Regions from separate parts of the Homo sapiens genome. Here region 1 is linked to region 2. Evidence: fine-mapped expression QTL. A gene starts in region 2. The other region holds a variant in brackets. All regions are shown on one strand. Distances are between the middles of the regions. Region 1 overlaps ASPSCR1 (ASPSCR1 tether for SLC2A4, UBX domain containing). Region 2 holds the start of CCDC57 (coiled-coil domain containing 57).

What was found. PIP is the estimated chance that this variant, and not a neighbour inherited with it, causes the effect.
Region 1: its variant is the best candidate, but not a certain one, in a credible set for the expression of CCDC57 in whole blood (TOPMed, PIP 0.54).

Annotation. Positions count from the first base shown.
Region 1 is chr17:81,986,391-82,001,128 of GRCh38, reverse strand. ASPSCR1 (ASPSCR1 tether for SLC2A4, UBX domain containing) reads right to left here. Exons shown (of 16, transcript NM_024083.4): 5 at 6,251-6,308; 6 at 5,064-5,137; 7 at 4,283-4,709. Among named protein-coding and RNA genes, the nearest start is that of ASPSCR1, 16 kb to the right of the region's middle. RefSeq lists enhancers at 1-68, 6,399-7,106, 9,235-9,942, 10,653-11,362. The variant G/A (reference allele first, on the strand shown) is at 8,429.
Region 2 is chr17:82,206,417-82,221,154 of GRCh38, reverse strand. CCDC57 (coiled-coil domain containing 57) reads left to right here and starts at 8,313. Exons shown (of 19, transcript NM_001394669.1): 1 at 8,313-8,370. It also overlaps a transcript of SLC16A3 not described here. RefSeq lists enhancers at 4,407-4,686, 5,748-6,042, 6,960-7,902, 14,639-14,738, 14,363-14,738 and a silencer at 7,853-8,772.

The sequences.
Region 1 (14,738 bases), 220 kb after region 2:
GACAGGCTCCTCCCCGCCCCACGAGTCCCACACCGGCTGTCAGCCACAGAGGGCCGGGTGTGAGCAGGGGTGCTGAGGAAACCCCAGGCCCCGGCTCCAGGAGCAAGGTTCACCCCCGAGGCGGGAGGGGCAGGCAGGGCAGCAGCCGCCAGCCCGTGCGGGCAGACCCAGCCTTTGATCAGGAGCGGCCCTCGTGCCAGCTGCCGGGAGGCCGAGTTGTGGGGGGCGTCTGCTGGGACTGGCGTCCCAGCCCAGCACAGGGCTGCAGGGCAGCCTCCCAGCCAGTGGAGGCACTTCAAAGACAGGGCCAGGGGGCGCCGGGCAGCCCCAGCCTCTCCCAGCGCCCGGTTCTGATCGCCAGTAAAACTACCTTCTAATAATTAATGCCTGACATCAAAGGCAGGAACCGCCCGGGTCTGTGAACCACCCCGGGTCTCGGCCGAGGACCTGCCTGTATTTTATCCTGTCTCTTCCTTCTGACTCTTTATTTAAGTCCAAAAACCACACACAGGCAAAACATTAATGGGAAACTTGGAAACTCTTTTTGCTTACTAAAGTGTACCTTTGAAGTTCCCCAAAAAAGTTCTGTTTTGTTCCCTTCTCCCCTCCCCCCATCACTGAAAGGGACCCAGCAGCGGCATGTGGCCCCGGGCCCTCTGCGTGTGCGGCTGGCGGCGATGGGAGGCGCGGGGCAGGCAGGACGCCCTCCATCAATCAGCTGCCCAAGTCCCAGATCAAAGGCCCTCAGCACGCCATGCAGGCCAGGCACACGCTCCCTCCCCTGGACCCCTCCTGCCAGCCAAGACCCCACCCCAACAGCGCCTCCCGACGGGCGAGCACGGGCGGGCACTACTCTGGGCTGCGAGCCCCATGCTCCACGCCCCACGCTCTGCAGACAAGACCCGCCCTGGTCACGGAGGGAAGGGGCTGAGGCCCACGCCTCTAGAATGGGGGAACATGACAGCCACTGTGTCTCTCACACTGAGGGGTCCCCACAAGAGCAGGCCTAGAGGGGGTCAGCCCCTGCTCACCCGGAGCACACGGGTCGAGGGGCACGAGCGCTTCATGGGGACTCAGGTGTCACAGTGCAGAGTTTGGCAGAGTTCCCAGAGGGAGGATGGGGTGCCAACACCATCATAGTCCTAGAATGGACCCAACACCCTCACTCCCCACTCCCTTGTCCACTCAACAGGAACAGTCCCAGGACAGCCAGGGGGACAGAAAACAGAGGGGCTGGACCCTGACGCCGGGCTAGATGGGAGCCCCCACATCCAACACGGTGCAGACGCCCGGCCTCTGCCCTCCCAGGTGTGTGGCCGGGAGGCAAGAGGGAGGCATGAGGTTGCTTCACTCAGAAGTGGCCAGAGGAGGAGGAAGCAAACTCCTGACCTCACCTGAGTTCCGGGACACGTAGCACGAGTGCCCAGGGGACAGCCGAGGCCGGGGCCATGTGCACAGAGCCCTCCTGGCCACTTCTTGTTTTCTTTTTTTTTTTTTTTTTTGAGATGGAGTTTCACTCTGTCACCCGGGCTGGAGTGCAGTGGCACGATCTCGGCTCACTGCAACCTCCGCCTCCCGGGTTCAAGAGATTCTCCTGCCTCAGTCTCCCGAGTAGCTGGGATTACAGGCACCTGCCACCACACCCAGCTAATTTTTGTATTTTTGGTAGAGACAGGGTTTTGCCATGTTGTCCAGGCTGGTCTCAAACTCCTGACCTCAGGTGATCTGCCCACCTCGGTCTCCCAAACTGCTGGGATTACAGGTGTGAGCCACCATGCCACAGGCCCAGACACAAATATTTTAAATGTCCACAGGAGATGGAGGCATGGGGGCCTTCCAGGCCCACTACGTCAGCAGGAGCTCAAGAAGCTCTGACCTGGCCCCTGGGCTGTGGCTGGCAGCTGGCAGCCTGGCCCTCAGGGGACACAGGGGCTGGGAAACAGCCTCCTCCCATCCCTGTCACCGAAAGCCGCATGACAGTCCCCCAGTCTGCCTCTTTTGGCACAAAACCCATAAATGCCACGAACACCTTAGTTCTGCAGGTGAGGAAGCTGAGGAAGTCAGGTTTCAGCAGCCCAGGTGCAGGGCTCTGATGCGGGGTCAGGACAGGGACAAAGGAAAAGTCAGCCACAGGGCCAGGGACCCCACAGACACGAGGTCCCCACGGTTGGGGGGAGGCGTGAGGGAGAGGGTCAGGCCACAGCCACACACAGGCATGCTCGGAGGTCAGCACCTGGCCGCCTGCCTGCATGCACTCCCCGCCAAGGGCCCAGTGCCCCAGTGGTGGGTGTAGTCTGCAGTGAGCAGTGGCCATAACCTTCGGAGAACTTCCAGAACCCAGAAAAGAGGGGCCACTGCCCAGCTCCCTTGTGAGCCAGGTGAAATTCGATTCCCAAACTGGATGAAGACAGAGCAAGGAAAAAAAGTCTGTCTCACTTATGAACACACATGCACAAGCCAATAAAATAAAGCATACGGTCATCTCCATTGATGCTGAAAACACTGAAACGGTTCAACACCCACTTAAGATTTTTTTAAATGTCAGAAAGTTAGGAATAGTAACTTTCTCTGCTTGATAAAGGCTTTTTATAGCACACATCATCCTTGGCAGAGAAATGACTAGTAATTCCTGTTACGATCAAGACAAGGAAGGATGTCTACTAAGATCGCCACGATCCAAAAGCACCAGAGGCCCATTCGCTGCAACACAGGAAGAAAAACGATGAGAGGACAAAGGGAAAGGTCTGCAGAGGCCCCGACAGAAACCAAGACGCCACTAGAACTAGCAAGGAGTCAGCCAGTCAAAGATGTAACAGGAAGCATGATACTATCCACAATATTATAAAAAGTAACTTTCAGGCCTGGTGAGGTGGCTCACAATTGTAATCCCAGCATTTTGGGTGGCTGAGATAAGAAGATCGCTTGAGCCCAGGAATTCGAGACCAGCCTGGGCAACAGAGAGAGACCTCGTCTTTATGAAAAATAAAAATAAAAATAAATTAGGCTGGGCGCGGTGGCTCAAGCCTGTAATCCCAGCACTTTGGGAGGCTGAGGCGGGCGGATCACCTGAGGTCAGGAGTTCGAGACCAGCCTGGCCAACATGGTGAAACCCCGTCTCTACTAAAAATACAAAAATTAGCTGGGCGTGGTGGCACACGCCTGTAGTCCCAGCTACTTGGGAGGCTGAGGCAGGAGAATCGCTTGAACCCGGGAGGTGGAGGTTACAGTGAGCCGAAAGTGCGCCACCACACTCCAGCCTGGGCGACAGAAGCAAAACTCCATCTCAAAAAAAAAAAAAAAGTGGGTGCCTCAGTAAAGGTGGTTTAAAACCAGAAAAAAGAGCTGGGCGCGGTGGCTCACGCCTGTAATCCCAGCACTTTGGGAGGCCGAGGTGGGTGGATCACAAGGTCAAGAGATTGAGACCATCCTGGACAACATGGTAAAACCCTGTCTCTACTAAAAATACAAAAAAATTAGCTGGGCTTGGTGGTGCGCGCTTGTAGTCCCAGCTACTCGGGAGGCTGAGGCAGGAGTAATCACTTGAACTTGGGTGGCAGAGGCTGCAGTGAGCCGAGATCGCGCCACTGTACGCCCACCTAGGGACACAGTGAGACTCTGTCTCAAAAAAAAAAAAAAAAAAACCCAGAAAAAAAAAAATCATTTGCCTGAGAAGCTAAGAACAAGCCCAGTGACCCTGCTCAGGTAGGAGGTGGGGCTTGATTCCAGACCAGATTGAAGACTGGCTGATGCGTTCACCAGCTCCCCCTTCCCTGGCCATAACCCGGAAGTTACCACCCCTTTTCTAGAGATTTCTGAATGCCCCACCCCTTAACGTGCATGTAGTTGAGTGGATGTAAATGTGACCACGGCCATGCCCTGAGCTGCTGCCCTCCATGCACCACCCCAGGGCGGCCCTGCTCTGTGCCACACATCACGGAGCCAACACGGAGCTGACACAGTTGCCGCCTTGTCATGGAGCCAACACGGCCTCATCCCGGAGCCCACACGGCCTCATCCCGGAGCGGACACGGCCTCATCCCGGAGCAGACACAGCCACCGTCTCAGTAAAGCTACTTTCTCTACCACCTGCTTACCCCTAAATTCCTTCCTGGGCGAAGTCAGAAGGCTCCTGTCCAGAGCCCCGCGTTTGGGTTCCTCTGCGCGTTTGGGTTCCTCTGCCCGCATCACGGCCACGCCACCAGGCTGACCAGCTAAAGCCACGCAGGGCTACACATCAGGAGAAAGGACACCCCCAAGTCCCAAGGCCTAGAGCCCCTTTTACCCGCTCCCGCTCCTGCTCCTGCTGGGGATCCCGCTCCCGCTCCTGCTCCTGCTCCTGCTGGGGATCCTGGCCCGACTTGGACTTCTTTGGCTTGGAGGGGCCTCCAGGGCTGGAGAGGGACTTCGGCAACTTAGCTGAAGATGATGTCAGAGGCCTCGTGGGCCCAGGAGGGCCCCCCAGTCTCTGTCCCCCACCCGAGAAAGGAACAAAGGGGGCAGCTGCGGGTGCCCTTGTGCTCTGCTTCTCCTGAGTGTGCTCGCAGCAGGGCCCTGAGGTGTCCGCGTCCTCCGGACGGCTCAAGTCGCCGCGGCTGAGCTCCCCAGATTCCAAGGGAAGTGGAGCGCTGGCGGCTGCCTGGCCAGCCGACGCTGACGAGCCCAGGCTTCCTGGGGTCTTGCCCACGGGGTCGTAGCACTTCATGACAAACCTGAGTGGGGCCAGAGGACAAGGGAAGCACCTTGTGGTGCCTACCCCCGGCTCACCCTCTCCCGGCCCAGGCTCACCCTCTCCCGCCCCCGGCTCACCCTCTCCCGCCCCCGGTTCACCCTCTCCTGCCCCATGCGCCCTCCCAAGATCCACCGCCCCTCTGGGGGACACAGAGATGAGGTCGGGGCAGCCCAGCCCCCACGCCCACAGGCAGGCAGAGGCCACCAGGCGCTCTCCATGATGAGGGCCTGGGTACACCTACTCCCCACTTGCCACGTGTCCTTTCTCCTTTCCTTTGAGACCACTTTTTTTTTTAGCTAAATAGACTCCTCGGCCCCAGCAGCACTGCCCTTACCTGATGGTGGCGCTGCCCCCGGTCAGGCCCAGCGACTGCAGCGTCGTGCCCCGCAGGGCAGCTTCACCCGTCACCTGCAGGAGGAGCAGCCAGGACAGGTGCGCCTTGCACCGGGACCCCAGAGCCCAGGGAAGCCCTCCGGGCACCGGCACCACCAGGACCACAGGCCACGTGCCCTCTCTGGCCTCCATCCTACCCACCCCCCACATCTGGCCCCTGCCGGTCCACACCCTCCACAAGGCCCAGCTTGAGTCTGGTCTGCAGCCGGGGCAGGACCTGCTGCCCATGCCTGACCGTGTCTCCCCCAGCCTGGTCTCCGCAGCTGGGACCCAAGCTCACTGAGGCCTGGGCTGGCAGAGCTGGGCTGCAAGGAGGAAGCCCTGGTGCCAGGACCCACTGCCCGGAGCGAGAGAGGCAGGAACGTGCTGTCACCCACGGGGGTGGCCATTCCTGGTGCTCAGCTCGGGGTGGGCAGGGATCGGGCCTGGCTGGCCACGTCCCATACGCTAACTCTGACCTGTGAGGAAGGGGTGGAGAAGCTGCCTCTAGCGAGGGCACAGTCAATGGCCCAGCACAAAAGCCAAAGGGTGTAAGGGTCCCTGAGGGCCACAGCCTCAGGACAGTGCTGGGCCTGGGTCCTGAGCCCCGTGGCTCATCCCCTCAAGGGAGGACGTAGACCTGAACCTCCCCGTCACAGCCCCAGCCAGGGAGCTTCCAAATGGGGATAAATGCGGGGAATGTCCTGGCCCCCCAGGGCCCCTCCGGGCCAGTGCCCCCCCACCCCAGCAAAGGGCACTCAGCCAGCGTGGAAACAAAAGGCCCCTGTGAGGCCAGGGACGAGCGCTAGGAGGGTCCCGCCACGGCGGGCTTTGCTTGCGCCACGCCACACTCGGTTTTGAAAATGATCAAAACACCGAGCAAAGCAAATATTTATTAAATGAAACCACTTTTGTGACTCTTGGGCTTTGAGAGAAGCTGAAAAAACAAACAGGGCGCCGAGGGAGGTTTCGGGGCAGCCCGGGCTCCGAGGGCCGGCCACTCCCTCTTTTTCCATGAAACACGTCGTGCTTTCAAGAGCCCGAGTCTCCCGCCACTGCCCTGGAGACGGCTGCGGGACAGCAGATTTTCCAGTTGGAAAGTGGGCTGAAAGTGAGCGGGGACTGGGTGAGCAAGAGCAGGCCGCCTACCTCATCCCTCGTGTACACGCAGACTGGGGTGGCCCCGCCGGGGTGCTGCAGGCACTCCCTGGGAGGAGAGGAAAGAAACCATCAGGTACCCCAGGGCAGCTCAACCAGTGCCACGGAGGCCCTGGGGCAGGAGACTCGGAAAGCAAAGGTGTGGGGCCCTCACCCAGCACCCACCCAGGACAGCGTCCCAGGCCCAGGCCCAGGCCACAGACCTCAGCCCCACTGCGCCCCACAACCACCAAAAGGAGGCACCTGACAGCCGGGGGCGCTCCCAAGGACCCTGGCCTGTGGTGCGTGGCCTGGGGGCTCCCCCCGAGACCTCCAGTCTCGGGGCCGCTGGCAGGACGTGGAGCTGCCGGCAGGGCCCAGGGACCGCACAGGAGGGGCGAGCAGCACTGGCTCCGGAATGCGGCTCACGGACACCTGTACTCAGGAGCCTGAGAGTCAGGGTACCGACGTCTGGGCTTTCATCTTAAGCCGCCCACTAAGAGGAGGTGCCCCTGTCTCCACCGCCTGATGTCCTCCTTCAAAGCCGACGCCTGATGTCACCGAAGCATGGAGGGAGGGGCGCTGCACTCCGCTCACGCCCGCTTGCCTGTGGCCGGGGAGGCCGTGCTTATAAGTCCATGTCGGACTCTGCCACCAGTGTCTTTCTGAGCCTCGCCCCGCAGGAGGCACAGCTGGACCCGTGCATGGGTGGGCAGGTATATGCAGCACGCCTCCCACACATGCCTGATGTGCATGGCAGCCCGGGAGACGGGCACATGCCGTCACATCCAGCCCCAGAGCATGTGAACTGCTGGTGGCACCTGCTGCATGAGGCGGGCTTGCCTCTGCGTTTCCAACTCCCCACCGTGAAATCCTCCCCACTGAGAAAAACAAAAGCCCTTCTCAGGCCTTCCTTGCAGATGCCCCTCATCAGTCCCTCTCCAGGGAGGGGAATCCGAGAGGAGGGGGCAGATGGCCAGAGCCTAGGCAAAGGGGAGGCCAGGGCCGGCCTCAGGTCATGCAGGTGCCCTGCCAGGCCCTATGGCCAGTGTGCCTTGCAAGGGCTCAGGTGGGACAGGAAGACACAGGCTGAGCTGGTGACCAGAACACAGGGGATAAAGATTAGGTAACAGCTGGGCTGGAAACTGCTTGCAGCAACCCTCCGGGATGGGGGGTACTGGGAGGGTCAGAGGGCAGGGTGCTGCAGTGTCCAGGTCGAGACATACGTGCACATCCATGCACAGAGCGGGATGCTGGGACAGGAACTCTCGGCCTCCGCCTGAACCCACCTGTGTGCTTACAGGGCCGCAGGGGTCCACTGTGCACTCACCGTGCCCCGACCCTGGGATCTGCTGACCTACTTGAAAGAGCAGGACTCAGCCGGGCGCGGTGGCTCACGCCTGTAATCCCAGCACTTTGGGAGGCCGAGATGGGCGGATCACGAGGTCAGGAGATCGAGACCATCCTGGCTAACACAATGAAACCCCGTCTCTACTAAAAATACAAAAAATTAGCCAGGCGTGGTGGCGGGCGCCTGTGGTCCCAGCTACTCGGGAGGCTGAGGCAGGAGAATGGCGTGAACCCAGGAGGTGGAGCTTGCAGTGAGCCGAGATCGCGCCACTGCACTCCAGCCTGGGCGACAGAGCGAGACTCCGTCTCAAACACAAACAAAACAAAACAAAACAAAAAAAAGGGCAGGACTTGCCTCCCTGAAATGAGAACAGACCAAGCAGAAAAGCCCAAGGTGCCACACCCAGGACAGGCCCAGCCCCGACACCTGGGGACTCGGCCACGTGTGTGGGTTTGACGTGTTTTCTTTTGTTTCGTGGCCTTTATTTTTCACGTCCTCAATCCTGGGGGAGGGGCATCCCTTTCCCACCCAGGCCCCGACTCTGACAGCCTGGTCTGGCTGCAGAGGCCCCACAGGGTCGTGGACTTAGCCCCATGGTCTCCCTGGGTCCACTGCCTACAGGGGAGCCCCTTCCCCAAGGGCCTCTAGCCTGTGGAGCACGTGCGCACCACACACACGGCGGGTGTCCTCTGCGCACAGGCTGGGACACACTCCCTAAGCTCCCGTCCCACAGAGCAGCCAACAAAGGGCCTTGGATTTGCCTTCCCTCCAAATGGCTGGAGACTCGGCCCAGAGGCCCCGAGACGCAGGGCTCAGGAAAACACAAGGCCTCAAAATGC[G/A]CCGGAGCAGAACCCGGACAGAGGCAGAGAGAGGCCTCAAGGAAGCACAGCCCCCAGGGCCAGGAAGGGGGACAGGGAGGGCCCAGGGTCCCCGCTCCCCAGCATGACACAGATGGCCAGGGGTCCGGAGATGGTCATGAGGCCACTTCTCTACGGCTGGGGAGGCCTGGGCTGAGGGGTGGCCAGAGTCCCAACTCACAGTCCTTCCCCGGCACTGACCGCCAGCTTGGGGACCTCAAATCACAAACAGGGACAGAGCACAGCAGCGTGACATCAAACGCCAGCCCGGCTTTGATGTGCGGCTCCTCCAGAGGGATCAGATTCCCTCCCTCATGCGGGATCTCAGGGAGGGGTGGTGGGCAATCGGTTCCAGACCTTCTACGCCGGCCCAGTGTGCAGGACGCCAGGGCCCGGGGGAAATTCCAGCGCCCGAGGAGACACAGCCCCTACTCCCCCTCCCCCACGCAGACCTCTGCAAGTCCCAATGTCCGCAGGGGCAAGACCCAGGGCCTCCCGGGGACCCCAGGCCAGGCCAAGCCACCAGACACCATGCTCCGAAGCCAGAAATGCAAGAAGTGCTTTGGGGCGCTTCCGCGGGTGCCTGCTCGCAGCAGGGTACTGGCACACTCTCACACACTCTCCAGCCAGCAGAGCTCCCCACCCGGCCAGGGCCAGAAGCCAGCGGGACGGCCAGGAGGGCAGACACGCCTCTGCTGCTGGCTTCGAGGGCATATTCTTTATGCACCACAAACCCCGCCCCGCTGGGGCCCCGCTCCGGCAAGGCGCGGCTGTGTGCTGGGGACAAGGCAGTGAGTCTAGAGCTCTCTGTGTTCATGTCCTGTCTGGGTATGACAAAGCCGGGCGCAAACACAGGTGCTGACGAGAGCCCAGGCAGCAGCATGCGCCCTGCCGGGAACAGAAGCTGTGGCTGCAGGCCAGGAGCCACTGGGCTCAGGGAGGCCCGCAGAGGGCATCACCCACCACATGACAGCCCAGCCGCCAAGCGGCTAGACAGAGCCTGGGAGAGCCTGGGGCAGGCTCCGGCCTTCTCAACCCAGCCAGGTCCAGACAGGGATGGACAAGGATGGACAGGGATGGACAGGAATGGACAAGGACGGACAGGGATGAACAGGGACGGGCAGGGATGGACAGGGACGGGCCGCAGAGCTCTGAGCTGGCCCAGCAGCATGCACAGACCCACCCTGAGTGTGGCCACAGGCCAGTGCTCCACCTGGCAGAGCCCTGTCCTCACCAGCAGCCCATCCCTACACCCCAGCACACCCAGAGGGCTGCAGAAATCACCCAGCTTTCCCGGAGCCACGGCTTTACCTACAGAAGGAGGAACAGGCTGAGATGCACTCAGCCAGCCCCCAAGCACTGAGTCAAGGCTGGGAGCAGAGGGCTGGGGGCCTGGGAAGAGATCCAGCCAGGGGCCGGGCACACTGGGGGCCACTCCCACCTGGGGTGCCCACGCCAGCACAGCCCGGGGGCACCTCTGAGAGAGGACAAATCCCCTCCATGGCTGAGCTCATGAATCTGATTTACAGAAAGCCCACCCTGCTCCCTCACGGTCTTCAGATGGAAAGCGGCTCAGCTGCTGTGTGAGTTCCCACGGCTCACCCTTGGCATCGTTCCACGGCAGGTCTCGGTCACCCACAACAGTCCCCGGTTCTCTTCCTGCTCCCAGCAGCTCAGCATGGTCCATCCACACCCCTGCCTTTCACCACTTGGCAACTAGGTCCTTACGGGACGTGGGATTCAAACTACGGGACTCGCCCGCCTGCCCTCGTGGACTGCCCAGACGTGCTACAGTATCCCCCGAGTCACAGTATGACCTCCTGGGGCTAGTGCCTGCTGGCTCTAAACCCATGGAGAGAAACTCCTCATAGGAAACCCGTTAGCATAACAATCTGTACCCCAGCAAAGATGCTGGTCAGAAAGGTACTCCCTTTCCTCCTCCGGGTGCCTCCAGGAGGGCCGTGTACCCCCAGGGCCCGTAGGCCATGAAATCCTCATTTCCATCTCATGCGTCTCCTATCACGGAAGGCACACTCCCCGTAATAAAGATCTCAAACTAGACACAGGCCCACCAGGCAGGCAGAGAGCAGTGTCCCCCAGAGCTCGGCGTGGAAGATCCCAAACTCAGACACAGGCCCACCAGGCAGGCAGAGAGCAGTGTCCCCCAGAGCTCGGCGTGGAAGATCCCAAACTCAGACACAGGCCCACCAGGCAGGCGGAGAGCAGTGTCCCCCAGAGCTCGGCGTGGCTGTTCACACCCCTCTGTGCTGGGCAGAACCTTCAGACTATAGGGAAAATGGGAAAGCTCGAAGCCAGCAGTGTGCAGCCTCTGTCTCCTGACGCCCTCCCTGCAGCAGAGCCTGAGAAGCAGAGTGGAGAGCGCCCAGTCCACGAGGACCCGGCCCAGACCGAGATGCTCCAAGTGCACCATACATGCAGGTCTCAAGGACTCTGCACAACAAGAGCATGAGACGGCTCACTTTTCTACTGACTACGTGTCCAGGAAGTCGTATTTTGGGTATACTGAGTTAACTACACGTATTACTAAAATTAATGACACCTGTTTTTATTTCTTCTTTAATGCGGTTACAAGAAAAAGTGAGTGATTGGCCAGGTGTGGTGGCTCACGCCTGTAATCTCAGCACTTTGGGAGGCCGAGGCGGGCTGATCACCTGACCAGCCTGGCCAACATGGTGAAACCCTGTCTCTACTAAAAAAAATACAAAAATTAGCCAGGCGTGATGGCGTGCGCCAGTAATCCCAGCTACTCAGGTGGCTGAGGCAGGAGAATTGCTTGAACCCGGGAGGCGGAGGTTGCAGTGAGCCAAGATCGCACCACTGCACTCCAGCCTGGGTGAAAGAAAAGAAAATGTGAGTCACCTCCATGGCCGACGTGTGGCTCGCTGGTATCCCTGAGGCCCCTGCTGCTTGAGACGCTGGTCGGGCCAGGGCTGCGTGCTACAGTGACACCCTCGCAGTGGAGCTGCAACGTTTCAAACACGTGGCAGTGTCCATCCAAGGAAATCACCCAGGGGTCCCCAAATACACAAAGCAGGCTCTGTCCCAGGGCAACTCCTGGGCACGCTACAGGCCTGCAGCCCCCAGCCTCAGAACGCCCCTTCGAAGCACAGCGCCTACACTGTCCCTGGACTCAGACCTCCTCCGAAACACATGAAAGAAGAAACATCAGCTTCCCGCCCGTCCCACTCTGCGGACACCTGGACTTCCCAAGGCCTCCCCAAGCCTCCTGGGCCAGTGCAGGGACACTAGGCACGAGAGCCTCCCTCCCTCATGCAGACCTGCTGGGGACCAGCTCCCAGCAGAGAGCCCACCAGGCACTCCACCCTCACCGTGGGGCTGGCAACGCCACCCACTATGAAACCTCGTCCATATCCTGCTCCATGGTTAGCAAACTCCAGCTTCTGGGACAAAGCTTGGGTCTGAGCTTTTAGAAATTTATTTAATATTTATTTCTGAGACAGAGTCTTGCTCTGTCGCCCAGGCTGGAATGCAGTGGTGTGATGTCGGCTCACTGCAACCTCCACCTCCTGAGTTCAAGTGATTCTCCTGCCTCAGCCTCCCAAGTAGCTGGGATTACAGGCCCTCACCACCACACCCAGCTGCTTTTTGTATTTTTAGTAGAGACGGGGTTTCACCATGTTGGCCAGGCTGGTCTCAAACTCCTGACCTCAGGTGATCCATCTGCCTCAGCCTCCCAAAGTGCTGGGATTACAGGTGAGAGCCGCCATGCCCGGCCTGGAAATGAAATGTGAAGAAGCCCTATCTTAAATTCCACCTCTGGAATTTAGCCCACAGGAGAAGCTGGGGTGGGTGACCAGGTGCAAAGGCCTCCAGCTGCACACTCTGCTGCAACCCTGCCCGGGATGCCCTGAGACACAGCCAGATGCCCCGCAACACCCACATGACACCCACACGACGGAAGAGCATGGCTGTGAGGAGTGACAGGTGCGGGACCCTTCAGGAAGATGTCCACAGCATATTCACCAGCAACAACAGTCAGCCACAAATCACTCTCCACCACAGGTGTGAGTGTTCATCAAATGAGGTGTACGTGCAGACACACCCGCAGACAGACCCACACTGCCACACAGACCAGGGCCGCAGGCTGGGGGCTCCGGGCTTTACCACCAACGGCCCCACCACCTCCTGCTGTCCCTGGTGTCTCGAAAGAGCTGCCCCACTTGCTCTTGTTTTTTTTTTTTTTTTTGAGACGGAGTCCTGCTTTGTCACCCAGGCTGGAGTGCAGTGGCGCAATCTCAGCTCACTACAACCTCCGCCTCCCGGGTTCAAGTGATTCTCCTGCCTCCTGAGTAGCTGGGACTACAAGCATGAGCCATTGCGCCCAGCTAATTTTTGTATTTTTAGTAGAGATGGGTTTTCACCATGTTGGCCAGGCTGGTCTCGAACTCCTGACCTCAGGTGATCCACCCACCTCGGCCTCCCAAAGGGTTGGAATTACAGGCGTGAGCCATCACGCCCAGCCACTTCTGTTGTTTCTTTTTTTTTTTTTTTTGAGACAGAGTCTCGCTCTGTTGCCCAGGCTGAGTGCAATCTTGGCTCACTGCAACCTCCACCTCCTGGGTTCAAGCAATTCTTCTGCCTCAGCCTCCTGAGTAGCTGGGACTACAGGAACCCACCACCACGCCCGGCTAATTTTTGTATTTTTAGTAGAGATGGAGTTTCACCATATTGGCCAGGCTGGTCTCGAACTCCTGACCTCGTGATCCACCCGCCTCAGCCTCCCAAAGTGCTGCGATTACAGGTGTGAGCCACCGTGCCCAGCCTTGTTGTTTCTTTTGTTTTTTTGTTTTTTTGAGATGGAGTTTTGCTCTTGTCACCCAGGCTAGAGTGCAATGGTGCGATCTCGGCTCACTGCAACCTCCTCCAAAGCGCCCAAACCCACCCCCACAGCCACCACCAAAGCCAGCTCCAAAGCCACTTCCAGAACCACCACGCCTGGCCAAGCCTGTTGTTTCTTAAACTAAGTTTCACACGAGGTTTACAAAGTCTGTTGAAGAGGCTTATGCTACCACAATGCCGGCCCCACCTCTCCAGACACCCTCGGCCCCTCCCCAGTGGCAGCCCCAGGCCACTCTGGGCCATTTCCTTACCTCCATCCCCATCTGAGGACTGACAGCACAGCCAGGGAGGACGGCCCTCACCAAGCACCTGTGCCTGTGGGAGCACTGGATTCTGTTCACGCCCGGGGGCACCGCCCGGCCCAGGGGCATTTCCTTCCAGACGTTCATCTTTCCTGACTTCTGTTCCCCGCGCTGTTTGGTTTTCTTCTTGCCCTCTGCCACTCTCGTCTCAGGAAGCAGCACAGAGCCAGGGCGCCGGGATCCCTGCTTCTCACCCAGTGCCCACACAGCGCCTGGGGCTGCCTGCCTCCCTGCCCGGCGCCACTCCTGGCTCGGGTCCCGCTCACCCCTGCCCGTGGCTTCGCTTTGCTCTCAGGCTCCGTCATCTCCTGCCTCGGGTCCCGCTCACCCCTGCCCGTGGCTTCGCTTTGCTCTTAGGCTCTGTCACCTCCTGCCTCGGGTCCCGCTCACCCCTGCCCGTGGCTTCGCTTTGCTCTTAGGCTCCGTCATCTCCTGCCTCGGGTCCCGCTCACCCCTGCCCGTGGCTTTGGCTTTGCTCTTAGGCTCCGTCACTGTTGTCTGAGTTCCGTTTTGGGAGGGAGAATTCCGTGCTCGTGCTTAACCCGCTGCCATCTCCAGGGGCCTCCATTCACCCCGACAGCCACTGGGGTGGCTTCCATCCCCATGACCACTGAGACCCGACGTGCAGACCTCAGCGCTCTCACCCACGAACGCAACACCCGTGCCATGCAGCGCGGCACTACTGTCAGACGGGAGCAGGCCCAGCCCTGGGGCCACCAAGCGCGCCCAACGCACAGTCACCTTCCCAGCGCCCGACGCGCGGTCACCTTCCCACAGGCCCTATGCTCGGTCCTCAAGACATGAACTCACCCCATCCACACACCAGCCGGGGCACAGGTGAGGAAACTGAGGCCCGGGGAGGGCGAGAACCCCCTGGCTCACAGCAAACCCCAGCCCCAAGTCCCTTCCATTCTGCTGAGCCTTTTACTGTGGACAGAGACTTCCAGCCAACGATGAAAAGACCCAAATTGACAAAGCACCAATTTTTACACATTCAGGAACAACGTTTAAACCATTAACCGACAGAAACTGATACACATCAATTACTTATTTTTATTTATTTATTTTTTTGAGACAGAGTCTCGTTCTGTTGCCCAGGCTGGAGTGCA
Region 2 (14,738 bases):
TGTTGCTTGTGTTTTTGGTATCATATCAAAAATCTGGGCCAGGCACAGTGGCTCACACCTGTAATCCCAGCACTTTGGGAGGTTGAGGTGGGCAGATCACTTGAGGCCAGGAGTTTGAGACCAGCCTGGCCAGTAGAAACCTGTCTCTACTAAAAATACAAAAATTAGCCCGGTGTGGTGGTGCATGCTTGTAATCCCAGCTACTCGGGAAGCTGAGGCACGAGAATTGCTTGAACCCAGGAGGCAAAGGGTGCCGTGAGCTGGGATTGCGCCACTGCATGCCAGCCTGGGTGGGTGACAGAGTGAGACTCTGTCTAAAACTAAATAAATAAATTAAATTAATTAATTAATTATGCTTTCTTCTGAGAGTTTTGTGATATTAGCTCTTATGTTTTGTTTGTTGATCTATTTTGCATTGATACTTATAAACGGTGTGAGATAGGGATCCAGCATTATTCTTTGCATGTGGATATCCAGTTGCCCCAGCACTTTTGTGGAAGAGATCTTTACTTTCTTTTTTTATTTACTTAAAAAAAATTTTTTTTAGATAGAGACAGGATCTCACTGTATTGGCCAGGCTGGTCTTGAACTCCTGAGCTCAGGTGATTCTCCCACCTCCACCTCCCAAAGTGCTGGGATTGCAGGCATAAGCCACCATGCCTGGCCGGAATCTATTACTTTCCTAAGGACAAAAATCAGTGTGATCAGCCTGCTTCCATGTTTAAGCTGGAGTGGGTGTGCCAGGCAGGGGCTGCCTGTGAGGCCAGAGGTTGCCCTGGGTCTCCCCTTCCCACTCCTGGGGTGGAGTGGAGCCCTACCCCAGCCCCTTGGCCCCAACATTCAAGCCTCAGCAGGCCAGGAGGTCATCAGCTGGAGGCCTCAGTGGTAGACATGGAGCAGGAGGCAGCTCTCCTGGGCACTGGGGGAGGAACAGCCTTCCTTGGCAAGAAGGTTTTGGGGTGGCCGTGGAGCCCAGCCTAGGGTGTCCAGGCCACACTGGGCCAACAGAGACAACTCTGTCCCAGGATCGGGGTGGCAGGTGGCTGGATGGGTGGGGACACTGCCCTCTCCTCTTGGCTCAGCCCTTTGGAGGCTGGGCAAAGTGTGGCCCTGAGAGCCCCCCCAACCTGCTGTGAAAGGGCCCCCCCGGCCCTGAGCGTCCAGCATCCTGGAGTGCGTTTTTTCGCCTTTCTCTGCTCCACCTGCCCTGTGTCCCACCCCTGCCTCCTCTTGAGCTGGGGGCTGGGGGGTCAGGGTTTCCTCTGCCCTCCTTGGAGCCCACGTCGGCCCTGGGTCTGCCATGGAGGCAGGACTGGAGTGTGGAAGGAGAGGAGTCAAGACTGGAACTCAAGGCTGGGTGGGAACAGCGCAGCCCATGCTCGCCTGTAGCCACCCTTCTCAGCGCAGACCCCCCGCCTTTCAGTGCAGCCCCCCAGCCCCCTCTTTGCACCCTTTGGCCTGGCTGCTCCTCCCCAAGTCCGAGACTGAGAGGCGGGGCCAAGCAGTGGGGGAGCAGTCCAGGCAGGGGCCCCAGAACCCCCTGCTCAGGGGCGGCCACCGGCACCTGGGAGGCGGTGGGGAAGGGCCCCATTGGTCCCCCTGCCAGCTGGGGCCTCCAGAGACACAGCAGGCCCAGGGAGCGAGGCCTCTGGCCTGCGAGACCCTACGGGCGGCCACTGGCTCCTGGGGAGCCCCCACGGCCTGCAAGTGCCTGGGGGTGACCGGACCTTCCCTGCTGTCTAGGGGAGGGTGACTGGGACAGTGTCACCCTCACCGCACAGACTAGCTCCTCCCCCGCCCCTTGGAGATGGGTGGGCACCTTCCCAGGTGGCACCAGCAAAGTGTGCTGCTGCCCCACACCCCCTCCCTAGGCCTCCAGGCCAACCCCCAAGTGCCTCAGACCTGCAGGCCCAGCAGGGCTCCATCGCTGCCCCGGCCTCCAGGCCCTGCCTGGTCCCGGGTGTCCTCCTCTTCTGCAGCTTGGGGGCTTCCCTGCATCTCCTGAGCCCAATGTATGGGCCCCATCCCTGCTCCTCTCCTCCCTGCCCACACCTGCCTGGGGTGGCCCCATCCACTCTCACGGTCCTTAGGAGCTTCCTCTCACGGTAACCCCGAAACGTCCTAGAGCCCAGACCCTCCGAGACCCTCAGTCCTGCTGGGCTCACACGGGGCTGCCTCAGCCTTTCTCTCCCTTATCCTCAACCCCCATGTCCAGTGGCAAGTCCCGTGGTCCCCAAGCCCTAGCGGTGCCCCCGGCGGCTCAGTGAGCCATTGGCATCCTGGTGTCCTGCCCACCCCAGCGCCTGGATGGAACAGATGCAGGTGAGTGACGGGCTTCGGGAACAGCCAGTGCCACCAGCCTGGCCCCAGGCCCTCGTCCCTGCTGCCCGTTCTCCACGCACAGCCGGAGGGTACCTTCTGCCCTTCTGCCGTGGTCAGCACCAGCCTGGTTTATGCTCTAGCCCTGGCCGGGCCTCTGTCCTCTCTTCCTTGGCCTAGAACATCATTCAGGTATCACCTGCTTTGGTGGTCCTGGTGCGGCCTCCCTGACCAAGCTCCACCTGCACACACCCTCGGCACCTTACACATGGCTCCTTCAGGGCTCTGTGCACCCCTGCGCTATTGACAGCTGCCTTCTTCCTGCATTTCTCCTCCTCCAGTGACCTCCTGGGCTCGCCTTGGCCGTCCACCCCGCAGTGACCGAGGCTGGGCTCCCCTTGGCCGTCCACCCCGCAGTGACCGAGGCTGGGCTCCCCTTGGCCGTCCACCCCCCCAGTGACCGAGGCTGGGCTCCCCTTGGCCGTCCACCCCCCCAGTGACCGAGGCTGGGCTCCCCTTGGCCGTCCACCCCGCAGTGACCGAGGCTGGGCTCCCCTTGGCCGTCCACCCCCCCAGTGACCGAGGCTGGGCTCCCCTTGGCCGTCCACCCCCCAGTGACTGAGGCTGGGCTCGCCTTGGCCGTCCACTCACCAGGGTTACCCAGAGCTTGTCATTGCTGGGACTGCAGCTACCCTACGTCTCAACCTGGAGCATCCCAGGTCGAGGAGCAGAGGTCACCACCTGCCAGCCCCTGCTGTGGCCTCGTGCCCAGCCCCAACCTGGCACATGGAGGCACAGGGAGGTTCTGAAGTGCCCTTGGCCTTCACCAGGCCAGAGCCAAGGACATGAGGACAGCAGCCAGGCTGTGGCTAGAGGCCTATGGGGCCGGGGGCCTGGGGAGTGGGGCCGGGCTGTGTGGCAGGATCTGTGCCTCTCGCCTGAGGGGGAGGGCAAGGCCTTGCCCAACCTTCCTGTCCGGCCAGGACCGCAGGCCCCGCAGCCAGTGACTCAGCACTGAGAACTCAGTGGAACTTCCTGGGGGGTTGGGGAGGGGCATGGGGCTTCTGACAGTGCCTGTCCCTTGCCCCTTGCCGCAACACTGGCTCAGGAACCGCTGTTTTCACACTGTCGGCGGCCGGGGTCCAGCCCCGTCCCTTCCAGAGGCCACGTGAGCCCCTTAGCTTCCCCAGCCTCAGTTTCCTCACTTTTACCCCAAGACAGGAGGACTTTGTGGTCTCTACGTGACGTGGTTACAGTGTGGAAATGCCGTGTGTCCCCCAGGGTCCCCCCAGCTCCCTCAAAGCACCTCCTGCTCACAGGCTGCTGTCCCTGCAGTGGACAAGGCAGCCGAGGAAGGTGGATGCCGGGGCACCTTGGCTCCTCTCCTTCTGGACGAAGCCGGCCTTGGGAGGACAGCCTGGCTTGGAGCCCCCTTGGGTGCCCACCCACTGGGCAGCACGGCCTGTTCCACACCAGCCTCGAGGGAGCATCCCCTGGTCCTGCCCGTGTCCACACCAGGATCCCTGGCAGCACTGGCCCTGCCTCCAGGTCTTGACCTCCAGGAAGTGGCTGTGGTCACGGCCGCTGTGGGGCATGTCTGACGCCGCTGTCCGGCTCCTGGTCCCATCTGGACAGTGCCAGTCTTGCTGGTCTGTTCCTGGAGGGTCTTCCTGTCCAGAGGAGCCTCCCTGCCTCCAGCCCTCAGGCAGGAGTCAGTGCCCACCCCCCTCCTCCTGGAGCAGCCAGACACTGAGGCCCACTCACACCCACCAGGCCCTTTCATTTCTTGGCTCCTCTCTGGCCTCAGGACCTGGGAGCCAGGCAAATGGTGCCCATGGTCACCCTTTCAGCTGAGCCACACGCCCGGGTGCCCCAGGGACAGAGCAGGGCGTGCCACAGGCACTGGCCAGATCCAGATCGGAGCAGGGCCCGCCCACACCCACCGGGCCCTTTCATTTCTTGGCTCCTCTCCTGCCACAGGGCCTGTGAGCCAGACAGATGGAGAAGTTGCCTCTGCAAGTCTGACGTGGGCATTCCCCAAACCTGAGAGGAAGTGGCTTGCTCTGGCCCATGCAGGCTGGTGCCCAGGCGGGGGCCCCCGCACCTCTTGTCCTGGATCCCTGTGCTTTTAGGGCCCTGCAAGAGGCCTGGAGGCCTCAAGCAAGCAGCTTTTGGGGGCTCCCATGGTGAGGTCTGCCACCAAGGTCAGTCTGTGTTCTGGGAAGCAAGAGCCTCAGCCCACACTTACGCCCTCAGCCATGGCCTTCTGACCTTCCTCTCACCCTCCCTTGTTTACCCCACTCAGTGACATGCGGCTGCCTGACACCCAGATGTGTGTCTGGGTGGGTGGGGCATAGGTGCCAGGAACGCAGCTGGGAGCAGGACAGCCAGTTCCCCACCCACCTTGCTCTGCCACAGAGGCATGGGAGGGTCAGGTCCTGGCCGTGTCACTCACCGGGGCACCAGGAAGGGCCCTCGGCCTCCACTGTCGTGGCATGATGAGGGTGGTTGCAGGACGGCCTGGGGGAGCCAGCACTGGGGGCTGTCAGCCCCACACAGGTCCAGGGCTGAATGGTGGTCCCCAAAGAAATAGGATCCAGTCGTAGCCGCTGGTCCATTAGAATGCGGCTTGGGAATAGGGTCATCGCCGACGTAATTGGCTGGGTGGTCCTGCTCCAACGTGATGGCGTCCTAAGAAGGGCAGCACATGGAGACAGACACACAGGAGAAGCCGCATGATGGTGGATATAGGGGCGGGAGGGGGCGATGTGGCTGCAGCCAAGGGTGCCGAGGCTGGAAGGGTTAGGTGCCTGTGGTCCCAGCTACCTGAGGCCAAGGTGGGAAGGATTCTCCCATAGGGCTTTTGGAGGGGCCATGGCCCGGCCGACATCCTCAGCTTTCCTGAACTGGGAAAGAAGAAAGGACCAGTTTGGGGTTCTTTGTTTTGGCGGCCCAGGCCCTGGCTCACACCCTGTCTGCCTTCCACCTGTGAGTCCTGCTGGGTGCTGGAGGCCAGGAGTGAAGGGAATGTGGTCTCCCTCAGCCAACTCCCGGCCACCCGCACTGAGGGTGCCCAGGTGGAGCCCAGCTGGGGAGCTGGGCAGGGAAGGAGGGGGAGGGGTTCTGCAGTGTGGGGGGGGCAGGGAAGGAGGGGGAGGGGTGCTGCAGTGTGGGGGGCAGGGAAGGAAGGGGAGGGGTGCTGCAGTGCTGGGGGGATTCAGTAGGTGTAGCCTCGGGCCTGAGCTGACGGCGGGCGCTCTGGGACCGTGGAGCTCAACCCAACGGAACGGCCCTCGAATCAGAGCACAGGCTGTGAGGGCCAGACCGGCCTGCCCCACAGCTTCAGGAACCAGGCAGTGCCCGTGGCACACCCTGCTCTGTCCCTGGGGCACCCGGGCATGTGGCTCAGCTGAAGGGGTGACCATGGGTGCCATGCTGCTGACTTGGGCCAGCACACGATTCCAGGTCCAGATACCCATGACGTGACAAATGACCTGCTAGGGCCGCATAACTCAACACCACAGCCTGGGCGGCTTAAACGACATTTATTTTCTCACTTCCGGAGTCTGGATGTCAGGGATCAGGCTGCCGGCAGGGTGGGTTCCTCCTGAGGCCTCTCCATGGCTTGCAGACGGCACCCTCTCCCTGCGTCCTCATGTGGCCTCTCCTCTGTGTGCTCACTCCTGGTGTCTCTTCCTCTTCTTTTAAGGACAACAGTTCAGGGTCCCACCCTTAGGACTCACGTAACTTTAATTACCTTCTTAGAGGCCCTATCCATAACACATAGGTTTAGAGGGTTTTTTTTGGAGACAGGGTCTTGCTCTGTCACCCAGGCTGGAGTGCAGTGGCGCGATCATAGTTCACTGTGGCCTCGAAGTGCTGTGTTCAAGTGATCTTCCCACCTTGGCCTCAGGTAGCTGGGACCACAGGCATGTGCCATCACACCCGGTTAATTTAAAAAAATTTTTTTTGGCCAGGCATGATGACTCACACCTGTAATCACAGCACTTTGGGAGGCCGAGGCAGGCAGATCACTTGAGGTCAGGAGTTTGAGACCAGCCTGGCCAACATGGCAAAACCCCATCTCTACTAAAAATACAAAATTAGCTGGGCATGGTGGCAAGTGCCTGTAATCCCAGTTACTCAGGAAGCTGAGGCAGGAGAATCGCTTGAACCTGGGAGGCGGAGGCTGCAGTGAGCTGAGATCACGCCGCTGAACTACAGCCTGGGCAACAGAGCGAGACCCTGTCTCCCGAGCTCAAAGGATCCTCCCTTTGGCCTCCCAAGGTGCTGGGTTCACAGGTGTGAGCACTGTGCCCGGCCCACACATGGGTTCCCATAGATCCCACTTTACAGGCAGGGACACTGAGGCATGCAGAGCCGGGATACAGACCAAGCAAGTCCTGGCTCCTCTTCTGGGTGTCCCAGCCCGTCTCGGACACCCACGCTTACCCAGGCCTGGTGGCTGCATCGTGGACATGGGGGCAAGGCAGCTCTCTGGGTGGGCAGAGGCAGGAGCTGAGGCAAGGATGTGGGCATCCTTTTGGGTACATCTAGTCCTAGAGCTGATCCAGGGGCCAGTCAAATGTGCAGCCAAAGTCGGGTCAACCCCAGCACTGTCCTGTGGGTGGGGGTAGCAGGGAGCCAACAGTCCAGGCCCTACATCCTGTTCTAATAGAGTGACAAGTCTGATGAGGCTGGGGGTGCACAAGCACTGAGAAGGCAGCAGGACAGGGAGCCAAACACATGGGGTGGTGGGGGAAACCAGGGAGCTGGACACAGGGTGGGGGGGTCCTGGGAGTTGGACACATGGGCCAGGTTGGGGGTCCAGGGAGCTAGACACAGGGGGTGGGGAGGGGAGTCCAGGGGACTAGACACAGAGTGGGGGGTGGGTCCAGGGGGCTAGACACACAGTGTGGGGGGTGGGTCCAGGGAGCCGGACATACACATGGGGTGGGGAGGGGGCATCCAGGGAACCAAGTCTAGGCAGAGGCAACTGGCGCAAAGGACCTGAGGCAGAAGAGGGTTTGGTGTGTGAGGCGGGACTGAGGACTGTGGGCGAGGGAGACAGCTCTACCAGGACGCATGGTTCGGGGAGGACAGGCTGCAGGGTGCCTGGGCTGCAGGCACGGCACGGAGAGGAGTGATCCAGTGTTAACAATGTGGGTGGAGGATGACACCAGACCCCTGGCTTATTGCCCCACCAGGGGAATTCCCAGACACCAAACACCCCCTCCACTCCCACGCAGAATTGCGGGCTGAGGGTTCGGGTGAGCCAGGCTGCTCTGTCCCGGGGCCGGGCTCTGTTCATCCATCCGCAGATGGATACGGACACGTGCCTTTTTCTGAGGATGTGAATGGTTGGGAATGGCTGTGCCTGAGGATGTTGTTCCCACAGGATGGTGGGGGCGACTTCGGGCCTCGGTGGGTCCCGACCCCCCTCCTTCCCCCAGTTCCCTAATCAGGGTCTGAGCGACCGCGCGCACGGCCCCTGGGCCCCGCCGGTCTCCGAGCCCGTGGGCAGCGCCGGGAACTCGTGCCCCGGTGGCCGCAGCCGACCCTTAGGCAGGACTTCGTGGCGCCCCCGGCCCGAACAGACCCCCACGGGCAGCCTCGGCCGCCCCGTGCTCCCTTCATCTCAGGGCAAAAGCTCAAGTCAACCCTTCGGGACCGCGAGCCGGGCGGCCTCAGGAAGCGGGCGCCTGGGGACCCTCGGCCGGGCCGGGGGCGGCGAAGGTGGGGGCGCCTCGCGCGGCGGAACCCGCCGTCCCCATAGCCCGGAGCCCCGTCCGGAGTCGCCCCGCTGACCGGTGAGGAGGCCGGGCTCCCTCCTTCGATCTGCGGCGGTGGTCGGGTCGGCCGGGGCGCCCCTCGGACCCGGGCGCAGCGCGGAACCCGGCGGGGCGGGAGGGGCCGGAACCTAGCGCCAGGGACCCCGTTTCCTGTCGGCGGGACCCGAGCGCTGCACCGAGCGCAGCCGGACGCGGCCGACTGACCCGGTCGCTGTGGCAACGCGGCGGGACCTGGCCAGCGCTGCTGGCGGGCGTTAGGGTGAGGTGCGGGCGGGCGGCGTGGGAGGCGTGGGAGGCGTGGGGGGCGCCGCTCCGACCACTCTTCCTGTAGAAAACCCCAGCAGCTGCCGTCCTGTCGGACGCAGCGCTTTGGTGGGGACCTGGAGCGCGAGGTCGACCCTCAGAGCTCGGCCAGGCCCGGACCGGGGATCCCCTCGCGGAGGCTGCGGCGGGGCGGGGCGGGGGTTGCGGCCGCGTGGAGCGGGAGCGTTCCCTCGGTCTCCCGTGGGTGACCTGGGGCGGTGGGCGCTGCCGACCAGGGCCCCGCAGCCCCGGGAGAATTCCCCGGGTTCCGCCGCCGGCAAGGACGGCTCCGCGCCCAGGCAGCCTTACAGTGTCTGTGAGTTTAAAAAAAAAAAAAAAAAAAGAGAGGAAAAAAAAAGGCCGGAGGCGGTGGTTCGCGCCTGTAATCCAGCACTTTGGGAGGCAGAGGCGGGCAGATTGCTTGAGGCCCGGAGTTCGAGACCAGCCTGGCCAACATGGTGAAACCCCCTCTCTACTAAAAATACAAAAATTATTGGGCGTGGTGGTGCACGCCTGTAATCCCAGCTACTCCGGAGGCTGAAGCAGGAGAATCGCTTGAACCCGATGTTGTAACTGAGGGAGTTATAGAGAGAACGCCACACTCTGAGACTACTCAGGAGTCCTGTATTGCCAGCGACTGACAGACTGCTAGAGCTGCAAATTCCCTCGGCCCCGAAGAAGGGGCTAGATTTCTTTTGATACCTTGGTCTAAATAGAGGAGGGGAGGCTAGCTGAAGCGATTTTTTTACAGAAGCAGAATAGGCAAAAAGTTAAAAGATAAATGGTTACAGAAACAGTTACAGGAAAATAAACAGTTCCAGGTACAGGGGCTTAAATTATCACAAAGTGATAAACGCAGGGGCTTTGGGTACCATCAACCGAGCGCGTTCCCAGGAGCTGCTGGTACAGCTTGCTCCAGTTTCTTATCAGTATTTTATCAGTAAGCGCATTCCTGGATGTGCTTGGAGTCAGCTTGCCCCAGTTATGTCCTTAAGGGACGGGGACAAGGGGCTGCAAGCGAAGAAACCAAAATGGTGTCTGTCCGGCCCTCTCAGCTAAGAGAGAGTCAGTCAGGTTAAAACAAAGTAGGGTACCACACCGAGAGGCGCAGGTTGCGGAGAGCCAAGATCGCGCCATTGCACTCCAGTCTGGGAGACAAGAGCGAAACTCGGTCTCAAAAAAAAAAAAAATTATCTGTAACTTAGAAAAAGGATACAAAAGGAGCACAGATTTCCCGTGTGCCTTTTGCCCAGAGCCCCTAGAATGCTGACCTCTTAGAGAACCACAGTTCATTCAGCAACATGTAGACGCTGGCGTTCATGTTGGTATCATCCCATGATCTGGTCTCCAGTATTTATTCTTGCTTAGCAGCTACCTCATGGATGACTTTACCGTGGTCCAGGATCCAATGATGAGTCCACTATTTTATAAAATGCCCCCCAGTTCGGGGGCATTTCTCTGATGTTTTGTCATAATTGATTTCATATTACTGATTTTTGGCAAGAAAACCTCAACAGGGAAATTGTGCCCTTCCCAGCGTCTTACGAGACACAGGATGCCCCTGGCTGTTGGTGCTAGTCACGTCCTGGGGGCTGAGGTGGTGTCTGCCAAGTGTGTCCATAAAGTTAGGGTCCTTCCCTTTGTAAATAATAAATATTTTGTGGGGAAATATCTTGCCACTATGTAAAAGATGATGTTTCTTTCTTTCTCTCTTTTTCTTTTTTTTTTTTCTTTTTTTTTTTTTTTTAAGACGGAGTCTCTCTTTGCCGCCCAGGCTGGAGTTCAGTGGCGCGATCTCGGCCCACTGCAACCTCTGCCTCCTGGGTTGAAGTGATTCTCCTGCCTCAGCCTCTCAAGTAGCTGGGATTACAGCCGCCCACCACCACCCCCAGCTAATCTGTGTATTTTTAGTAGAGACGAGGTTTCGTCATGTTGGCCAGGCTGGTCTCAAACTTCTGACCTCAGGTGATCCACCACCTTGGCCTCCCAAAGTGCTAGGATTACAGGTGTGAGCCACCGTGCCCGGCCTTTTTTTTTTTTTAATTAATTTTATTTTTTTGAGACTGAGTCTCTCTCTCTCTCGCCCAAGCTGGAGTGCAGTGGCTTGATCTCGGCTCACTGCAACCTCTGCCTCCCGGGTTCAAGTGATTGTCCTGCCTCAGCCTCCTGAGCAGCTGGGATTACCAGCGCCTGCCACCATGCCCGGCTATTTTTTTTTTTTTTGTATTTTTAGTAGAGACGGGGTTTCACCATGTTGGTCAGGCTGGTCTCGAACTGCTGACCCCAAGTGATCCGCCCGCCTTGGCCTCCGAAAGTGCTGGGATTACAGGCCTGAGCCACAACGCCCAGCAAGATCTTGTTTCTAACCATACTTCTGTCACTAATTTTAGCACCCATGAGTGTTTCCCCAAAATAACTGTTAATGTGCTATTTGTTAAATGATTTTTCTGTTTCCATTACTCCTACATTTATTAGTTGGGATTTTCCTATAAGAAAGAACCATCTCTTCCCAGGCTGGCTTGCAGGGGCGCGGTCTCGGTGTTAGTGCATCTTTTTATTCCATGGATTCTAACCCATCGCTATCACGTACTTTGTTGCTCACATTATCCAGATTGAGGTGTTAGGAGCCCCTTCAAGTTGGCCTCTCTGTCCTTATAGCACGTCCCAACCTTCTGGGAGCATTTTCTTTCTTTCTGGCATCACAGAATTCAGGCTTATCTTATGCTTGCCTTGACATATCCCAGAATCAGTCATTTCTCCAAGGAGCCCTGGTTCCTTTTAGTTTAGAAGGTAGTGTTTAGAAACCAAGATCCCAGTACCAGATAGACATATTGCTACTGGGATGCCATTTCTTCTTGGCTTTCTTAATGGATAGAGTAGGAAACGTGTTTCTATACACTATACACATGCAAATCTATTTCAGTATATCTGTGTCTCTGTATATATTAAAAACTGGCTGGGTACAGTGGCTCACGCCTGTAGTCCCACCACTTTGGGAAGCTGAGGGGGGAAAATCGCTTGAGGTGAGGAGTTGGAAACCAGCCTGGCCAACAAAGTGAGACACCCATCTCTATAAAAAATTACAAAATAAATTAGCCAGCCATGGTGGCGTGTGTCTGAGTCCCAGCTACTCTGGAGGCTGAGGTAGGAGGACCATCTGAGCTCAGGAGTTTGAGGCTGCAGTGAGCTATAATCATGCCACTGCACTGCAGCTCGGGTGACAGAGTGAGATCCCATCTCAACAAACAACAAACACCAAAAAAACCTGTGAGTTTATTACAAGTTACGCACTTGTAATCAAGTTAGGTTCACCTGTTTCTACTTCATTTTGAGTCCTTACTGATTTTAAGTTTTTTTGTTTTTTGTTGTGCTTTGTTTTTGGCACATGAAACATGTATACGTGGTTCTAAAAGTCCGCAAAGTCTAAACTCAACTACAAGACTTCGACTTCAACTTCTATTTCTCACTTACTCACTTTTTTTTGGCAAATGCACGTTCAAAGAAAACAGCCCTTCATGTTCCTTCGTGGTAGTGGTGCCCCTCTTCTCCAGCAAGTGCCACTGACAGAATTCAGACCTACTGCCCATCTCTCTTATTTCAGTTTTAGAAATGGCTGTGGCTACTCTTCGGCAGTCAGTGGAGGAAGTGAAAAAAAACACGGGGTCACAGGTACATAATTTTTGTCCCCTGGACCTATTTAAAGAGTAGATGAGAGGCTGGGTGCAGTGGTTCACACCTATAAGTACGTGGGAAGATCGCTTGAGCTGTAGCTTTTAGATGGGCATTCGAGGCTGCAGTGAGCTGTGATTGTGCCACTGCACTCCATCCTGGGTGACAGACTGAGACTCTGTTTCAAAACAAAAGAGTAGATTACTGAATTTGGCCTCCCAGAGGGCTTAGCAGCACTCTCTGGAATCCAAGAGGGGCCACAAGAGCTAAATTCAGTACATTTAAAGGTGAGAGGATCATTTGAGGCCAGGAGTTCAAGACCAGGCTGGACAATATAGTGGAACCCCATCTCTACAAGAAATTTAAAAAAAAAATTAACTGGGCATGGTGGTGCCTGCCTGTAGTCCCAGCTACTCAGGATGCTGAGATTGAGTCCTCTGTCCTGAGTACAAAGTGAATGAGCCACCCCAGACCTGCCTTCCAGTCCCAGGAAGTGTCTTATAAGTTAAGGGTATTAGGCCAGGCACGGTGGCTCACGCCTGTAATCCCAGCACTTCGGGAGGCCGAGGCGGGTGAATCACGAGGTCAGGAGTTCAAGACCAGCCTGGCCAAGATGGTGAAACCCCATCTCTACTAAAAGTACAAAAATTAGCCGGGCATGGTGGCGGGCGCCTGTAATCCCAGCTACTTGGGAGGCTGAGGCAGGAAAATAGCTTGAACCCAGGAGGTAGAGGTTGCAGTGAGCCAAGATCGCGCCACTGCATTCCAGCCTGGGCAAGAAAACAAGACTGTCTAAAATAATAATAATAAGTTAAGGGTATTAAATATATTTATACATGGAGGTCATAAAAATATATATATTTGGGCTGGGCGCAGTGGCTCACACCTGCGCCCGGCCCTTTGGGAGGCCGAGGCAGGTGGATCACCTGAGTTTGGGAGTTCCAGACCAGCCTGACCAACATGGAGAAACCCCTTCTCTGTGTATTTTTAGTAGATTTTATTTTATGTGTATTTTATTCACAGGTATTTCTGGAAAACTCAAACTGTTTTTCCTCTACTCTGATACCACAAGAATCATCAGCACAGAGGAAGACTTCTGTGATCAAATGTGGTGGGAGAGGGAGGTTTTCACCAGCACATGAGCAGTCAGTTCTGCCGCAGACTCGGCGGGTGTCCTTCGGTTCAGTTCCAACACCGCCTGCCTGGAGAGAGGTCAGACCACAGGGTGAGGGCTCAGTCCCCAAGACATAAACACCCAAGACATAAACACCCAACAGGTCCACCCCGCCTGCTGCCCAGGCAGAGCCGATTCACCAAGACGGGAATTAGGATAGAGAAAGAGTAAGTCACACAGAGCCGGCTGTGCGGGAGAACGGAGTTCTATTATGACTCAAATCAGTCTCCCCAAGCATTCGGGGATCAGAGTTTTTAAGGATAACTTAGTGTGTAGGGGGCCAGTGAGTTGGAGATGAAAGCGTAGGGAGTCGAAGGTGTCCTTTTGCGCCGAGTCAGTTCCTGGGTGGGGGCCACAAGATCGGATGAGCCAGTTTATCAATCCGGGGGTGCCAGCTGATCCATGGAGTGCAGGGTCTGCAAAATATCTCAAGCACTGATTGATCTTAGGTTTTACAATAGTGATGTTACCCCAGGAACAATTTGGGGAAGGTCAGAATCTTGTAGCCTGTAGCTGCATGACTCCTAAACCATAATTTCTTTTTTGTTTTTTTTTTTTTATTTTTGAGACAGGGTCTCACTCTGTCACCTAGGCTGGAGTGCAGTGGTGCAATCACAGCTCACTGCAGCCTCAACGTCGTAAGCTCAAGCGATCCTCCCACCTCAGCCTGCCTGGTAGCTGAGACTACAAGCGACGCCCCAGTTAATTTTTGTATTTTTGGTAGAGGCAGCGTTTTGCCGTGTGGCCCTGGCTGGTCTCGAACTCCTGGGCTCAAGTGATCCAGCCTCAGCCTCCCAAAGTGCTGGGACAACCGGGGCCAGTCACTGCACCTGGCCCTAAACCATAATTTCTAATCTTTTGGCTAATTTGTTAGTCCTACAAAGGCAGTCTAGTCCCCAGGCAAAAAGGGGGTTTGTTTCGGGAAAGGGCTGTTACTGTCTTTGTTTCAAACTATAAACTAAGTTCCTCCTAAACTTAGTTCGGCCTACACCCAGGAATGAACAAGGAGAGCTTGGAGGTTAGAAGCACGATGGAATTGGTTAGGTCAGATCTCTTTCACTGTCTGAGTTATAATTTTGCAATGGTGGTTCAAAGACTGCCCGCTTCTGACACCAGTCGCGAGTCCTGGCCTCCGGAACTTCTGACTGACCACTGGCTTCAAGTTGGGGTTCCCACAGCCCCCTCTTTGGGTTCGATTGATTTGCTGGGGTGACTCACAGAACCCAGGGAAACACATACGTGTAACAGTTTATTATAAAGGGTATTACAGAGGATACAGATGAGGAGATGCGTAAGGGGAGATATGGGGGAAGAGGCTTCCTGGAGGACCCCCCCACACCCCACCCACCACTCCCCAGGAACCTCTCCACACCCTGTCCTCTTGGGTGTTTAGGGAGGCTTCCTGAAGTCAGCATTCCTTCCCCCAGGGTAGAGGGTGGGAGCTCTGGGGAGGATCTTATGACCTACAATGGAAAGTCAGG